Linked DNA regions of Homo sapiens. The protein of the gene in region 3 purifies or fractionates together with the protein of the main gene of each other region. This does not show direct contact. Each region holds a gene or a part of one and is shown on either strand. Other genes may lie near its edges. The genes, in order: ALB, FGB, F13B and FGG.

Region 1 (4,352 bases), on a different chromosome or scaffold from region 3:
AAGTAATGTGTGTGTGTGCATGTTTGTGTGCATGTGTGTGTGCATGCACGTGTGTGTATGTGTGATATTGGCAGTCAAGGCCCCGAGGATGATAATTTTTTTTTTTTTTTTGAGACGGAGTCTCGCTTTGTTGTCCAGGCTGGAGTGCAGTGGTGCCATCTCGGCTCACTGCAACCTCCGCCTCCCAGGTTCAAGCCATTCTCCTGCCTCAGCCTCCCAAGTAGCTGGGACTACAGGTGCATGCCACCATGCCTGGCTAATTTTTTGTATTTTTAGTAGAAAATTTTCAGCTTCACCTCTTTTGAATTTCTGCTCTCCTGCCTGTTCTTTAGCTATCCGTGGTCCTGAACCAGTTATGTGTGTTGCATGAGAAAACGCCAGTAAGTGACAGAGTCACCAAATGCTGCACAGAATCCTTGGTGAACAGGCGACCATGCTTTTCAGCTCTGGAAGTCGATGAAACATACGTTCCCAAAGAGTTTAATGCTGAAACATTCACCTTCCATGCAGATATATGCACACTTTCTGAGAAGGAGAGACAAATCAAGAAACAAACGTGAGGAGTATTTCATTACTGCATGTGTTTGTAGTCTTGATAGCAAGAACTGTCAATTCAAGCTAGCAACTTTTTCCTGAAGTAGTGATTATATTTCTTAGAGGAAAGTATTGGAGTGTTGCCCTTATTATGCTGATAAGAGTACCCAGAATAAAATGAATAACTTTTTAAAGACAAAATCCTCTGTTATAATATTGCTAAAATTATTCAGAGTAATATTGTGGATTAAAGCCACAATAGAATAACATGTTAGGCCATATTCAGTAGAAAAAGATGAACAATTAACTGATAAATTTGTGCACATGGCAAATTAGTTAATGGGAACCATAGGAGAATTTATTTCTAGATGTAAATAATTATTTTAAGTTTGCCCTATGGTGGCCCCACACATGAGACAAACCCCCAAGATGTGACTTTTGAGAATGAGACTTGGATAAAAAACATGTAGAAATGCAAGCCCTGAAGCTCAACTCCCTATTGCTATCACAGGGGTTATAATTGCATAAAATTTAGCTATAGAAAGTTGCTGTCATCTCTTGTGGGCTGTAATCATCGTCTAGGCTTAAGAGTAATATTGCAAAACCTGTCATGCCCACACAAATCTCTCCCTGGCATTGTTGTCTTTGCAGATGTCAGTGAAAGAGAACCAGCAGCTCCCATGAGTTTGGATAGCCTTATTTTCTATAGCCTCCCCACTATTAGCTTTGAAGGGAGCAAAGTTTAAGAACCAAATATAAAGTTTCTCATCTTTATAGATGAGAAAAATTTTAAATAAAGTCCAAGATAATTAAATTTTTAAGGATCATTTTTAGCTCTTTAATAGCAATAAAACTCAATATGACATAATATGGCACTTCCAAAATCTGAATAATATATAATTGCAATGACATACTTCTTTTCAGAGATTTACTGAAAAGAAATTTGTTGACACTACATAACGTGATGAGTGGTTTATACTGATTGTTTCAGTTGGTCTTCCCACCAACTCCATGAAAGTGGATTTTATTATCCTCATCATGCAGATGAGAATATTGAGACTTATAGCGGTATGCCTGAGCCCCAAAGTACTCAGAGTTGCCTGGCTCCAAGATTTATAATCTTAAATGATGGGACTACCATCCTTACTCTCTCCATTTTTCTATACGTGAGTAATGTTTTTTCTGTTTTTTTTTTTTCTTTTTCCATTCAAACTCAGTGCACTTGTTGAGCTCGTGAAACACAAGCCCAAGGCAACAAAAGAGCAACTGAAAGCTGTTATGGATGATTTCGCAGCTTTTGTAGAGAAGTGCTGCAAGGCTGACGATAAGGAGACCTGCTTTGCCGAGGAGGTACTACAGTTCTCTTCATTTTAATATGTCCAGTATTCATTTTTGCATGTTTGGTTAGGCTAGGGCTTAGGGATTTATATATCAAAGGAGGCTTTGTACATGTGGGACAGGGATCTTATTTTACAAACAATTGTCTTACAAAATGAATAAAACAGCACTTTGTTTTTATCTCCTGCTCTATTGTGCCATACTGTTAAATGTTTATAATGCCTGTTCTGTTTCCAAATTTGTGATGCTTATGAATATTAATAGGAATATTTGTAAGGCCTGAAATATTTTGATCATGAAATCAAAACATTAATTTATTTAAACATTTACTTGAAATGTGGTGGTTTGTGATTTAGTTGATTTTATAGGCTAGTGGGAGAATTTACATTCAAATGTCTAAATCACTTAAAATTGCCCTTTATGGCCTGACAGTAACTTTTTTTTATTCATTTGGGGACAACTATGTCCGTGAGCTTCCGTCCAGAGATTATAGTAGTAAATTGTAATTAAAGGATATGATGCACGTGAAATCACTTTGCAATCATCAATAGCTTCATAAATGTTAATTTTGTATCCTAATAGTAATGCTAATATTTTCCTAACATCTGTCATGTCTTTGTGTTCAGGGTAAAAAACTTGTTGCTGCAAGTCAAGCTGCCTTAGGCTTATAACATCACATTTAAAAGCATCTCAGGTAACTATATTTTGAATTTTTTAAAAAAGTAACTATAATAGTTATTATTAAAATAGCAAAGATTGACCATTTCCAAGAGCCATATAGACCAGCACCGACCACTATTCTAAACTATTTATGTATGTAAATATTAGCTTTTAAAATTCTCAAAATAGTTGCTGAGTTGGGAACCACTATTATTTCTATTTTGTAGATGAGAAAATGAAGATAAACATCAAAGCATAGATTAAGTAATTTTCCAAAGGGTCAAAATTCAAAATTGAAACCAAAGTTTCAGTGTTGCCCATTGTCCTGTTCTGACTTATATGATGCGGTACACAGAGCCATCCAAGTAAGTGATGGCTCAGCAGTGGAATACTCTGGGAATTAGGCTGAACCACATGAAAGAGTGCTTTATAGGGCAAAAACAGTTGAATATCAGTGATTTCACATGGTTCAACCTAATAGTTCAACTCATCCTTTCCATTGGAGAATATGATGGATCTACCTTCTGTGAACTTTATAGTGAAGAATCTGCTATTACATTTCCAATTTGTCAACATGCTGAGCTTTAATAGGACTTATCTTCTTATGACAACATTTATTGGTGTGTCCCCTTGCCTAGCCCAACAGAAGAATTCAGCAGCCGTAAGTCTAGGACAGGCTTAAATTGTTTTCACTGGTGTAAATTGCAGAAAGATGATCTAAGTAATTTGGCATTTATTTTAATAGGTTTGAAAAACACATGCCATTTTACAAATAAGACTTATATTTGTCCTTTTGTTTTTCAGCCTACCATGAGAATAAGAGAAAGAAAATGAAGATCAAAAGCTTATTCATCTGTTTTTCTTTTTCGTTGGTGTAAAGCCAACACCCTGTCTAAAAAACATAAATTTCTTTAATCATTTTGCCTCTTTTCTCTGTGCTTCAATTAATAAAAAATGGAAAGAATCTAATAGAGTGGTACAGCACTGTTATTTTTCAAAGATGTGTTGCTATCCTGAAAATTCTGTAGGTTCTGTGGAAGTTCCAGTGTTCTCTCTTATTCCACTTCGGTAGAGGATTTCTAGTTTCTTGTGGGCTAATTAAATAAATCATTAATACTCTTCTAAGTTATGGATTATAAACATTCAAAATAATATTTTGACATTATGATAATTCTGAATAAAAGAACAAAAACCATGGTATAGGTAAGGAATATAAAACATGGCTTTTACCTTAGAAAAAACAATTCTAAAATTCATATGGAATCAAAAAAGAGCCTGCAGAACCAAAGTAAGACTAAGCAAAAAGAACAAATTACCTGATTTCAAACTACACTATAAGGCCATAGTCACCGAAACAGCAAGGTACTGGTATAAAAATAGGCACACAGACCAATGGAATAGAACAGAATAGAGAACCCAGAAATAAATCCACATACTTACAGCTAACTGATTTTAGACAAAGAAAACAAAAACATAAGGTGGGGAAAGGACAACTTTTTCAACAAATGGTGCTAGGATAATTGGCAAGCACATGTAGGAGACTGAAGCTAGATCCTCATCTCTCACCTTATACAAACATCAACTCAAGATGGATTAGGAACTTAAATCTAAGGCCTAAAACTATAAAAATTCTAGAAGATAACATTGGGAAAAACCCTTCTACATATAGGCTTAGGCAAGGATTTCATGACCAAGAACCCAAAACAAATACAATGAAAACAAAGATAAATTGCTGGGACTTCATTAAACTAAAGAGCTTTTGCATGGCATGGCAAAAGAAACAGTCAGCTGAGTAAACAGACAACCCACAGAGTGAGAAA
Region 2 (4,352 bases), on a different chromosome or scaffold from region 3:
TAGGTGAATATTGGCTTGGAAATGATAAAATTAGCCAGCTTACCAGGATGGGACCCACAGAACTTTTGATAGAAATGGAGGACTGGAAAGGAGACAAAGTAAAGGCTCACTATGGAGGATTCACTGTACAGAATGAAGCCAACAAATACCAGATCTCAGTGAACAAATACAGAGGAACAGCCGGTAATGCCCTCATGGATGGAGCATCTCAGCTGATGGGAGAAAACAGGACCATGACCATTCACAACGGCATGTTCTTCAGCACGTATGACAGAGACAATGACGGCTGGTATGTGTGGCACTCTTTGCTCCTGCTTTAAAAATCACACTAATATCATTACTCAGAATCATTAACAATATTTTTAATAGCTACCACTTCCTGGGCACTTACTGTCAGCCACTGTCCTAAGCTCTTTATGCATCACTCGAAAGCATTTCAACTATAAGGTAGACATTCTTATTCTCATTTTACAGATGAGATTTAGAGAGATTACGTGATTTGTCCAATGTCACACAACTACCCAGAGATAAAACTAGAATTTGAGCACAGTTACTTTCTGAATAATGAGCATTTAGATAAATACCTATATCTCTATATTCTAAAGTGTGTGTGAAAACTTTCATTTTCATTTCCAGGGTTCTCTGATACTAAGGGTTGTAAAAGCTATTATTCCAGTATAAAGTAACAAACACAGTCCCTAGATGGATTGGCCACAAAGGCCCAGTTATCTCTCTTTCTTGCTATAGGGCACAGGAGGTCTTTGGTGTATTAGTGTGACTCTATGTATAGCACCCAAAGGAAAGACTACTGTGCACACGAGTGTAGCAGTCTTTTATGGGTAATCTGCAAAACGTAACTTGACCACCGTAGTTCTGTTTCTAATAACGCCAAACACATTTTCTTTCAGGTTAACATCAGATCCCAGAAAACAGTGTTCTAAAGAAGACGGTGGTGGATGGTGGTATAATAGATGTCATGCAGCCAATCCAAACGGCAGATACTACTGGGGTGGACAGTACACCTGGGACATGGCAAAGCATGGCACAGATGATGGTGTAGTATGGATGAATTGGAAGGGGTCATGGTACTCAATGAGGAAGATGAGTATGAAGATCAGGCCCTTCTTCCCACAGCAATAGTCCCCAATACGTAGATTTTTGCTCTTCTGTATGTGACAACATTTTTGTACATTATGTTATTGGAATTTTCTTTCATACATTATATTCCTCTAAAACTCTCAAGCAGACGTGAGTGTGACTTTTTGAAAAAAGTATAGGATAAATTACATTAAAATAGCACATGATTTTCTTTTGTTTTCTTCATTTCTCTTGCTCACCAAGAAGTAACAAAAGTATAGTTTTGACAGAGTTGGTGTTCATAATTTCAGTTCTAGTTGATTGCGAGAATTTTCAAATAAGGAAGAGGGGTCTTTTATCCTTGTCGTAGGAAAACCATGACGGAAAGGAAAAACTGATGTTTAAAAGTCCACTTTTAAAACTATATTTATTTATGTAGGATCTGTCAAAGAAAACTTCCAAAAAGATTTATTAATTAAACCAGACTCTGTTGCAATAAGTTAATGTTTTCTTGTTTTGTAATCCACACATTCAATGAGTTAGGCTTTGCACTTGTAAGGAAGGAGAAGCGTTCACAACCTCAAATAGCTAATAAACCGGTCTTGAATATTTGAAGATTTAAAATCTGACTCTAGGACGGGCACGGTGGCTCACGACTATAATCCCAACACTTTGGGAGGCTGAGGCGGGCGGTCACAAGGTCAGGAGTTCAAGACCAGCCTGACCAATATGGTGAAACCCCATCTCTACTAAAAATACAAAAATTAGCCAGGCGTGGTGGCAGGTGCCTGTAGTCCCAGCTACCTGTGAGGTGGAGATTGCATTGAGCCAAGATCTCAACACTGCACTCCAGCCTGGGCAACAGCGTGAGACTCCACCTCAAAAAAAAAAAAAAAAGAATCTGACTATATACCATGGAAAAGCCACCACTCTGCCACTTAAATAAACATCAGGATCAGAGATTCCAAGAGGACAATCTGCATCAAGTCTTCACCAAGTGTTTTTTAAGCGAAATAATGAAATAGGGAGCAGAATATGCCTGTTGCCCATAGAAACGAGGTCTATTCTTGTCCTCAATTAGGCTTTTTTTTCTTCATAGTTACACCAGAACTAAAGTAAAAGTGGTTTTTCTGTTCTTTCTACTTCTCCCCATGAAATGGGCATATCATCTCAACACTTCACTCCAAGTCGCCACGGGCAACCTTATGACCCTAGGTCCTCCACCCCTAATGTATCATCATTGCCACCCATTTTTATGGTACTTATTGTTCTTAAGCTTATCCTCTTAATCTTTTCATGTAAGCAAAGCTCATTAATTTCTGTCTTGGAAATGCTACTACTCTCTTTAATTACTCACCAAATCCAACTTTAACTTTTGACCTGGTTTCTCTGCCACAAGTTCTGTCCCACTGGAGCCCATACTCACCTACCGCTTTGCCATCACATTTAACAGAAAACTCTTATCAACTTACTTCCTGCTTAACATTAGCTCCTTCCTATCTATATCCAAATTTCTTAAATTCAAATTTTTTAGCTGGAGTAAAAATGGTCCCAGTACCATTTCCTGTTCCCTTCACTATAACCTACATTTTTGTCACATTAAGTTTTTCCCCATTCCAGGACAGGTCAGGCCCTTTAAAAATTTCAACAGCTTTATTGAGATATAATTGATATAATTTAAAAAATCCTGCACATGTGTCATGCTGGAGCCCTATTGATTCCAACAGGGATGGCGCCTTGTCCAAGAAGAGACCCAGAGCCAGTGAATGGGACATAGGGTTTATTTAGGACTTAAATACAGATGTGGTCCAGTGGCAGTGGGCTGGACAGGACCGCTACTATTTGTAAAGAGTATGTAGTTTATATAACATTTCTACTTAGCACTCTCCACTTAGCAACCTCCATTTAACCCAAAATAAAAGGCCTTGGTTCCTTGCACATCCTGAGTTCCAACGGACAGGCAGGGAGTTCAAGTGTCCTTCACAGATAAGAAGTGAATCTCTCTGGGTTGGCCATTCCCGGATTCCTTAGCTTAGACTCTGAACACATATTCTTCTTAGACCATACAGTCATTCTCAGGGTATGCTTGAGTTAATGCTGTCGGATGCATCTGTCATACAAAGTGTTTAACATATACGATTTCATGATTTTGGAAATATGCATACACCCATGATATCACTGGCACAGTCAAGATATTAAATATATCCATCACCTCCAAAAGTTTCCTTGTGTTCATTTATTTTAGTTTTTCATGGTAAGAACATTTAATATGAAATATTATCAACAAATTTTTAAGTGCACAATACTGTATTATTAATTTTAGGCATTATGTTGTACAGTAGATCTCTAGAACATATTCATCTACTAAAAATGAAATTTTATCTCCATTTCCCCCTACCTCCCATCCCCTGGCAACTACCATTCTATTTTCCACTTTGACTGTTTCAGATACCTCATATAAGTGAAATCACACAGTATCCTTTCGCACTGTTGTGGGGATGTAAAACGGTGCAGCTACCATGGGAAGAAATGTGGAGGCCCCTAAAAAATTTTTTAAAAAATTCTGATTATCATATGATCCAGCAATCTCACTTTTAGGCATATATCCAAAAGAACTGATATCAGGATCTGGAAGCAATATTTGTGCATCTGTGGTCATTGCAACATTATTCACAATGTTCAGGTCCTTTTATATGATGCCCTCATTGCAGCAATGTCTTCCTCCCAACACCATCTGACAAACTGCTATTTGTTTTTAAACCTCACTTTAACTGTCACCGCCCAGAGAAGACTTTCTAAAACCTTTGGGCAAATTTTATTACTTTTTGACAATGAATGCCTGAGGCTTATCCAGCTTTGATTCCAGAAACATCAGCCTGTCAGAATGGCTAATTTTCATGCATTTGTGAATGCTGGATGGCTAAATCCAGTGATTTTCAAAGTCTCGAACATCCTCTTTTTAAATGTAGAACCCATTTTCCAATAAAGCCACAAACAGAAACTCAACATGCAAAGTTCTTGAATATGGAACTTTTGGGGCAATACTGAGAGTCGCAAAAGTTCACTGAATGAAAAATGCGGGTTGGGAAGACTGCAGTCATCAGACCTTTGCTCACTCCTTACGTGTTCACAGAGGATCAAATGAATCCCTAGAGCTTGAAGTAATGCCATAGAAGAAAAACCACTAAAGTAGATAATCTGATGGTCAATTCTTAGTTAATGTACAAATAGAAAAAACACAGAGACCACTCCCAGGTAATATGTAAGTCTATCTA
Region 3 (4,352 bases):
GGTAATGGCATGACACAGATCAGATAACCGTGCTTAGCACTAGCGTTCAAAAAAAACTTTTGTTTAAGAATTCTTTACATTGACTTAAATTCTACAGATAGCTACACATACAGGCACACACACATGCACACATGCAAAGCAGAAGAGTAGGTGCTGTAGCAATGTGTTTCTAATTTGCCTAAGCAGTGGTCTTTTCCTAGGAATATTCAGATTAAAGTAACAGAATGGAAAATTTTACACCATAAGTTTAGCTACTGATGGTAAATGTAGCATACATACCAACACACTCAGGAGGAAGTGTCCATTTTCCACGATTACAAGTTATCTCATTCGATCCATGGAGAAGGTAGCCGCTTTTACATGCATATGTCACTTTATCCCCATTGTAATAAATCTTAGAGTGTAAATTTGCTGCACCATTTTCAATGAAGGGTGGTTCCTCACAGGCTACCTTCTCCTGTCCTTCTGAAAAGGTACAGTTGAAAGAGAACTGACCATTTAGCTACACATGCAGATTTCATTTTAGCAAAGCTTCTTCAAGGTGTTACTAACCAATGCATTTTGGAGGTTCTGTCCATTTTCCATCTTCACAACGTATTTCTGCTGACCCATGGATCTCAAAATTAAGTTCACATTCTATATGAACTATTTCTCCATGACGATAAGTTGTTGAATGTGTTTGAATTTTGGAGTTTATGGGCAGAGGTGGAGGAGGACATCTGTTTCTTCTTCCTTATGGAAAAAATTAATCAGCACCTTTAGTCATATAATTACAAAAAATAATAAAGATTAAATTAAAATATTCATCATGTCAAGCATCATAGAGAGAATGGCAGACTGATTCTAGGAGCATTCCTTTGATCCTCACCTCCTGATGTTAACTTCCTTGTGTGATACCCCTTTCCATGAGTAGGACCTGTGACTTGCTTCTAGCCCACAAAATACAGCAAAGGTGATGGATTAGTACGTGATTATGCACACATAATTATGTAACATCAGTTTTTAACGCCATTCTTGCCAAGAGACTCTCTATCCTTGCTGGTTTTGAAGAAACAAGAGGCTACATCATGAGCTTCCAAAGCAGAACGGCTGCAAGGCAAGGGGCAGAGGGCTGCCTTCAGTTAACAGCCACAAGAAACAGAGGCTCTCAGTTCAGCAGTCTGCAAAGCACTGAATGCTGCCAATAACTACAGTGAGTTTGGAAGAAGTCTTGCCCAGTCAAGCCTCAGATGAGACTGCAGTCCAGCTAACATCTTGATTGCAGCTTTGATAGCCATCGATGCAAGGAGTCGGTTAAGCCGCACCCAGACCCCCAACCTACACCCAATGGGAAATAATTTCTTTGTGTTGTTTTAACCTGCTGAGTTTGTGGTGACATTGTTACGCACCAATAGAATACTAACACAGCAGGCATTTTACATTCATTACCTCTTTTAGTCCTAAAATAACTTTATTAAGTAGGAACTATTATTTCTCCCATGTTATAGACAAACTAAAACTTATGAAGTAAATAAATTAATAGCATGTAGCAGATCTGTTCTTGAACCCACGTCTGTCTAAATTAAAGTCTCCTGCTCTAAAATACTGACCACACTACTTTCCTATTGCTGCTTTGATGAATTACAATTTAGTGGCTTAAAACAGCACAGATTTATCCTCCTACAGTCCTAGAGGCCAGAAGTCCAGAGTCAGTTTCACTGGACTAAAATCGAGATATCAGGAGAGCCACATTCCTGCTGGAGACTTTGGAGGAGAATCAGCTACTTTGCCTTTTCTAGCTTCTTGAAATCACCTGTATTCCTTGGCTCACAACCCCTTCCTCAAAACATTTCAACCTGTGGCTTCCATTGTCACATCTCCTGCTTCCTCTTCTGCAGTCAATCTCCCTCTGCCTCCCTTTTATAAAAGCATTTGTGATTATATTTAGAGTCTGGATAGATAGTTCCAGATAATATTCCTACCTTAAGATTGTTAACCTCAAAGTGTCTTGTACCGTGTAAGGTAACGTTTAATGGTTCTCAGTATTAGAATGTGGCTATATTTTGGGAGGAGTAAGAGAGATATAATTCAGCCCACAACTGAATTATATTGTTGTGGGCTGAATTATATTAGCCATTGTATGCCTAATGACTGTTTACCGGAAAAAACAGGCATGTTGTCATGCTGGCTAATTTGGAAGAGGAGAAGGGTATAAAAGGCCTTAAGTAGGTCTGCCATTTATTTTTGAAGTAGCACTTTGAGAGGCTGAGGCAGGCTGATCACCTGAGGTCAGGAGTTCAAGACCAGCCTGACCAACGTGGCAAAACCCTGTCTCTACTAAAAACACAAAAAAATTAGCTGGGCATGGTGGCCGACACCTGTAGTCCCAGCTACTCAGGAGGCTGAGGCAGGAGAATCACTTGAACCTGGGAGGTGGAGGTTGCAGTGAGCTGAGATCGTGCCACTGCACTCTAGCTTAGGCGACACAGCAGGACTCCATCTCAAAAAAATAAAAAATAAATAAGGAATAATAGACTTTAAAAAAATTTGCTTAAAAAATCTACTTCTCTACTACTATACCAAGGATGTCGAGCACAAATGAAAAATCATAAAATCTTTAAAGTTACTGTACAGTGCATTTAGGGAATTATGATAGTTCTGGCAATCCCACTGCATACCCATGGTCAGAGCCCTCATTTGTTTCCCCTAGCACCTGTTTCAAATCTTCACCACTTTCCTCCAAGTTCTACCTTCATGTCTTTCACCTGCCTGTCAATAGACCTTATATCCCATATTACAGAAAATAAAAAATGACTATCAAACCCTTTGCCTCACCCTATCCTCCCAATTCTCAAACTGCTACTTATCTCTTAAGACCCAACTTAAATATTGTCCATCACTTCTGTGAATGCTATTCCACAGCATACCAATCAGAATCTCTAATGTTTATTCCTGCACTTTGTACCTGAGTTGATTGTACCATTTGTCACATTATAGCAATTATTTTTTTCATATCTGCAATTACTGTTTTCATATCTTCTGCTAGTATAGGACCCTCCTCATATTAAATTGTAGGTTTGTTTAAATAACTATGGATGTCTTCTGACAGGTAATTGCATTACCTGTTTGGACACTTCCAGTAATAGAAATGTGACCATAGATATTACATTTTTGGGCAGCTTTTACAAGATGACCTCTTTTCCCATTTTCACTTCTGGGCATTATTCTTCTGCTTTTCCTGCTTTCTCTGCTTTCTACCTCACTATTTTGGAGATTAATTTTTACATCTGGAAATATGTGGCAAATTAAGAGAAAATATCCTTGCAAAGCTGCCAGATTGGGGTAATTAGTCCTAATAATTCCCAATAAGAAAAGTTATTCGTTATAATAAGGGATTTAAAATGTATAATAGATATTTTAAAATAATAAATTTAAAAGATATAGTCATTTACAAACTAAGACAAAACAAGATTTATTCAGGTGGGATATATTAAAGATTGCTGAAAATAGCACTGATTTAAAAGATAATATTTATTTTAAAAATAGGACTCAGGAAAAAAAATAGATATGACCACAGGAATTTTGTCAGAGCTAATAGAGATTAAAGCTGATAAAGACATGGCATTTTGCGAGTATTAAATTTAAAAATTTACCTTCGCATACAGGAGATTCTGGGTACCAACCAAAGTTATAGCATTGAATTAAATCAGATCCACTTAGATAATAATTTTCATGACAGAAAAACTGAACGACATCTCCTTCTTCATAGGTTTGCTTTACAGGATGAAAATAACCATTTTCAATTAATCTTAAAGAAGAGCACTTTAATTCTGCAAATAAAAGAATGAATAAAATTACAAACAAATGTTTATTTTTTCTGCTACAACAAAATGCACTATTTACATGACATAACTAGAATAGAAATTAAATTTGCCAAAAAGCTTATGAATTCATTTTATATATTTGTTAAATATCATTAGGCTTATTCTAATTTAATTCTGTGAGCTAAAATGAATTTATTCTACTTGAGAGCTTTAATTATCAAAGACTGCTATCAACATAATTAAAAATAAAGGCAAAAATGCATGAAAAGGTGAAACATAATGAGCATGACAACTTATATACACTTCTCTATGAGAAAAAGCTTTCAGAGTGAGAGTAGATTTTATTCCAAATGAGAACCTACTGGTACATTTTGGTGTGAGAGACCATCCGTATGTGAGACATTCTACCTCCTCTGTCTTCTTTCCTCCAGCTGTGTAGTAGCCAGTAGCACATTCGTATTGTACTTTGTCCTTCACTTTGAATGTTTTCTGTGTTGTGGAATAATTTCCATTATATAATTCAGGAGCCAAACATGTTTCTAAAATTAT
Region 4 (3,845 bases), on a different chromosome or scaffold from region 3:
AATGTAAAGGAGAAAGTATGTACTGGAAAGTATAGGAATAGTTTAGAAAGTGGCTACCCATTAAGTCTAAGAATTTCAGTTGTCTAGACCTTTCTTGAATAGCTAAAAAAAACAGTTTAAAAGGAATGCTGATGTGAAAAGTAAGAAAATTATTCTTGGAAAATGAATAGTTTACTACATGTTAAAAGCTATTTTTCAAGGCTGGCACAGTCTTACCTGCATTTCAAACCACAGTAAAAGTCGATTCTCCTTCTCTAGATTGTCAAGACATTGCCAATAAGGGAGCTAAACAGAGCGGGCTTTACTTTATTAAACCTCTGAAAGCTAACCAGCAATTCTTAGTCTACTGTGAAATCGATGGGTCTGGAAATGGATGGACTGTGTTTCAGAAGGTAATTTTTTCCCCACCATGTGTATTTAATAAATTCCTACATTGTTTCTGCCATATGGCAGATACTTTTCTAAGCACCTTGTGAACCGTAGCTCATTTAATCCTTGCAATAGCCCTAAGAGGAAGGTACTTCTGTTACTCCTATTTACAGAAAAGGAAACTGAGGCACACAAGGTTAAATAACTTGCCCAAGACCACATAACTAATAAGCAACAGAGTCAGCATTTGAACCTAGGCAGTATAGTTTCAGAGTTTGTGACTTGACTCTATATTGTACTGGCACTGACTTTGTAGATTCATGGTGGCACATAATCATAGTACCACAGTGACAAATAAAAAGAAGGAAACTCTTTTGTCAGGTAGGTCAAGACCTGAGGTTTCCCATCACAAGATGAGGAAGCCCAACACCACCCCCCACCACCCCACCACCATCACCACCCTTTCACACACCAGAGGATACACTTGGGCTGCTCCAAGACAAGGAACCTGTGTTGCATCTGCCACTTGCTGATACCCACTAGGAATCTTGGCTCCTTTACTTTCTGTTTACCTCCCACCACTGTTATAACTGTTTCTACAGGGGGCGCTCAGAGGGAATGAATGGTGGAAGCATTAGTTGCCAGACACCGATTGAGCAATGGGTTCCATCATAAGTGTAAGAATCAGTAATATCCAGCTAGAGTTCTGAAGTCGTCTAGGTGTCTTTTTAATATTACCACTCATTTAGAATTTATGATGTGCCAGAAACCCTCTTAAGTATTTCTCTTATATTCTCTCTCATGATCCTTGCAGCAACCCTAAGAAGTAACCATCATTTTTCCTATTTGATACATGAGGAAACTGAGGTAGCTTGGCCAAGATCACTTAGTTGGGAGTTGATAGAACCAGTGCTCTGTATTTTTGACAAAATGTTGACAGCATTCTCTTTACATGCATTGATAGTCTATTTTCTCCTTTTGCTCTTGCAAATGTGTAATTAGAGACTTGATGGCAGTGTAGATTTCAAGAAAAACTGGATTCAATATAAAGAAGGATTTGGACATCTGTCTCCTACTGGCACAACAGAATTTTGGCTGGGAAATGAGAAGATTCATTTGATAAGCACACAGTCTGCCATCCCATATGCATTAAGAGTGGAACTGGAAGACTGGAATGGCAGAACCAGGTACTGTTTTGAAATGACTTCCAACTTTTTATTGTAAAGATTGCCTGGAATGTGCACTTTCCAACTATCAATAGACAATGGCAAATGCAGCCTGACAAATGCAAACAGCACATCCAGCCACCATTTTCTCCAGGAGTCTGTTTGGTTCTTGGGCAATCCAAAAAGGTAAATTCTATTCAGGATGAATCTAAGTGTATTGGTACAATCTAATTACCCTGGAACCATTCAGAGTAATAGCTAATTACTGAACTTTTAATCAGTCCCAGGAATTGAGCATAAAATTATAATTTTATCTAGTCTAAATTACTATTTCATGAAGCAGGTATTATTATTAATCCCATTTTATAGATTAACTTGCTCAAAGTCACATTGCTGATAAGTGGTAGAGGTAGAATTCAGACTCAAGTAGTTTAACTTTAGAGCCTGTCCTCTTAACAACTATCCTGGTTGAAAAGCAAATACAGCCTCTTCAGACTTCTCAGTGCCTTGATGGCCATTTATTCTGTCAAATCATGAGCTACCCTAAAAGTAAACCAGCTAGCTCTTTTGATGATCTAGAGGCTTCTTTTTGCTTGAGATATTTGAAGGTTTTAAGCATTGTTACCTAATTAAAATGCAGAAAAATATCCAACCCTCTTGTTATGTATAAGGAATAGTGAAATATATTGTCTTCAAACACATGGACTTTTTTTTATTGCTTGGTTGGTTTTTAATCCAGAAAGTGCTATAGTCAGTAGACCTTCTTCTAGGAAAGGACCTTCCATTTCCCAGCCACTGGAGATTAGAAAATAAGCTAAATATTTTCTGGAAATTTCTGTTCATTCATTAAGGCCCATCCTTTCCCCCACTCTATAGAAGTGTTGTCCACTTGCACAATTTTTTCCAGGAAAGAATCTCTCTAACTCCTTCAGCTCACATGCTTTGGACCACACAGGGAAGACTTTGATTGTGTAATGCCCTCAGAAGCTCTCCTTCTTGCCACTACCACACTGATTTGAGGAAGAAAATCCCTTTAGCACCTAACCCTTCAGGTGCTATGAGTGGCTAATGGAACTGTACCTCCTTCAAGTTTTGTGCAATAATTAAGGGTCACTCACTGTCAGATACTTTCTGTGATCTATGATAATGTGTGTGCAACACATAACATTTCAATAAAAGTAGAAAATATGAAATTAGAGTCATCTACACATCTGGATTTGATCTTAGAATGAAACAAGCAAAAAAGCATCCAAGTGAGTGCAATTATTAGTTTTCAGAGATGCTTCAAAGGCTTCTAGGCCCATCCCGGGAAGTGTTAATGAGCTGTGGACTGGTTCACATATCTATTGCCTCTTGCCAGATTTGCAAAAAACTTCACTCAATGAGCAAATTTCAGCCTTAAGAAACAAAGTCAAAAATTCCAAGGAAGCATCCTACGAAAGAGGGAACTTCTGAGATCCCTGAGGAGGGTCAGCATGTGATGGTTGTATTTCCTTCTTCTCAGTACTGCAGACTATGCCATGTTCAAGGTGGGACCTGAAGCTGACAAGTACCGCCTAACATATGCCTACTTCGCTGGTGGGGATGCTGGAGATGCCTTTGATGGCTTTGATTTTGGCGATGATCCTAGTGACAAGTTTTTCACATCCCATAATGGCATGCAGTTCAGTACCTGGGACAATGACAATGATAAGTTTGAAGGCAACTGTGCTGAACAGGATGGATCTGGTTGGTGGATGAACAAGTGTCACGCTGGCCATCTCAATGGAGTTTATTACCAAGGTATGTTTTCCTTTCTTAGATTCCAAGTTAATGTATAGTGTATACTATTTTCATAAAAAATAATAAATAGATATGAAGAAATGAAGAATAATTTATAAAGATAGTAGGGATTTTATCATGTTCTTTATTTCAACTAAGTTCTTTGAAACTGGAAGTGGATAATACCAAGTTCATGCCTAAAATTAGCCCTTCTAAAGAAATCCACCTGCTGCAAAATATCCAGTAGTTTGGCATTATATGTGAAACTATCACCATCATAGCTGGCACTGTGGGTTGTGGGATCTCCTTTAGACATACAACATAAATGATCTGGATGGATTAACATTACTACATGGATGCTTGTTGACACATTAACCTGGCTTCCCATGAGCTTTGTGTCAGATACACGCAGTGAACAGGTGTTTGGAGGAACAGAATAAAGAGAAGGCAAGCACTGGTAAGGGCAGGGGTTTGTGAAAGCTTGAGAGAAGAGACCAGTCTGAGGACAGTAGACACTTATTTTAGGATGGGGGTTGGATGAGGAGGCTA

Evidence for each region.
Region 1: the proteins of F13B (region 3) and ALB purify together in Homo sapiens (co-immunoprecipitation; one study listed by IntAct). This does not show direct contact.
Region 2: the proteins of F13B (region 3) and FGB purify together in Homo sapiens (co-immunoprecipitation; one study listed by IntAct). This does not show direct contact.
Region 4: the proteins of F13B (region 3) and FGG purify together in Homo sapiens (co-purification; 2 studies listed by BioGRID and IntAct, with this or other methods). This does not show direct contact.

What each region holds. Positions count from the first base shown.
Region 1 is NC_000004.12:73,417,756-73,422,107, forward strand, and holds the end of ALB (albumin preproprotein), read left to right. Parts: intron 1-332; coding exon 333-556; intron 557-1,751; coding exon 1,752-1,884; intron 1,885-2,498; coding exon 2,499-2,543; 3' UTR 2,544-2,566; intron 2,567-3,336; 3' UTR 3,337-3,727; downstream 3,728-4,352. UniProt on the Homo sapiens protein: Binds water, Ca(2+), Na(+), K(+), fatty acids, hormones, bilirubin and drugs. Its main function is the regulation of the colloidal osmotic pressure of blood. Major zinc transporter in plasma, typically binds about 80% of all plasma zinc.
Region 2 is NC_000004.12:154,569,511-154,573,862, forward strand, and holds the end of FGB (fibrinogen beta chain isoform 1 preproprotein), read left to right. Parts: intron 1-3; coding exon 4-289; intron 290-908; coding exon 909-1,140; 3' UTR 1,141-3,297; downstream 3,298-4,352. UniProt on the Homo sapiens protein: Cleaved by the protease thrombin to yield monomers which, together with fibrinogen alpha (FGA) and fibrinogen gamma (FGG), polymerize to form an insoluble fibrin matrix. Fibrin has a major function in hemostasis as one of the primary components of blood clots.
Region 3 is NC_000001.11:197,056,734-197,061,085, forward strand, and holds part of F13B (coagulation factor XIII B chain precursor), read right to left. Parts: intron 4,343-4,352; coding exon 4,166-4,342; intron 3,810-4,165; coding exon 3,633-3,809; intron 733-3,632; coding exon 553-732; intron 466-552; coding exon 280-465; intron 1-279. UniProt on the Homo sapiens protein: The B chain of factor XIII is not catalytically active, but is thought to stabilize the A subunits and regulate the rate of transglutaminase formation by thrombin.
Region 4 is NC_000004.12:154,606,177-154,610,021, reverse strand, and holds part of FGG (fibrinogen gamma chain isoform gamma-B precursor), read left to right. Parts: intron 1-258; coding exon 259-392; intron 393-1,371; coding exon 1,372-1,556; intron 1,557-3,039; coding exon 3,040-3,317; intron 3,318-3,845. UniProt on the Homo sapiens protein: Together with fibrinogen alpha (FGA) and fibrinogen beta (FGB), polymerizes to form an insoluble fibrin matrix. Has a major function in hemostasis as one of the primary components of blood clots.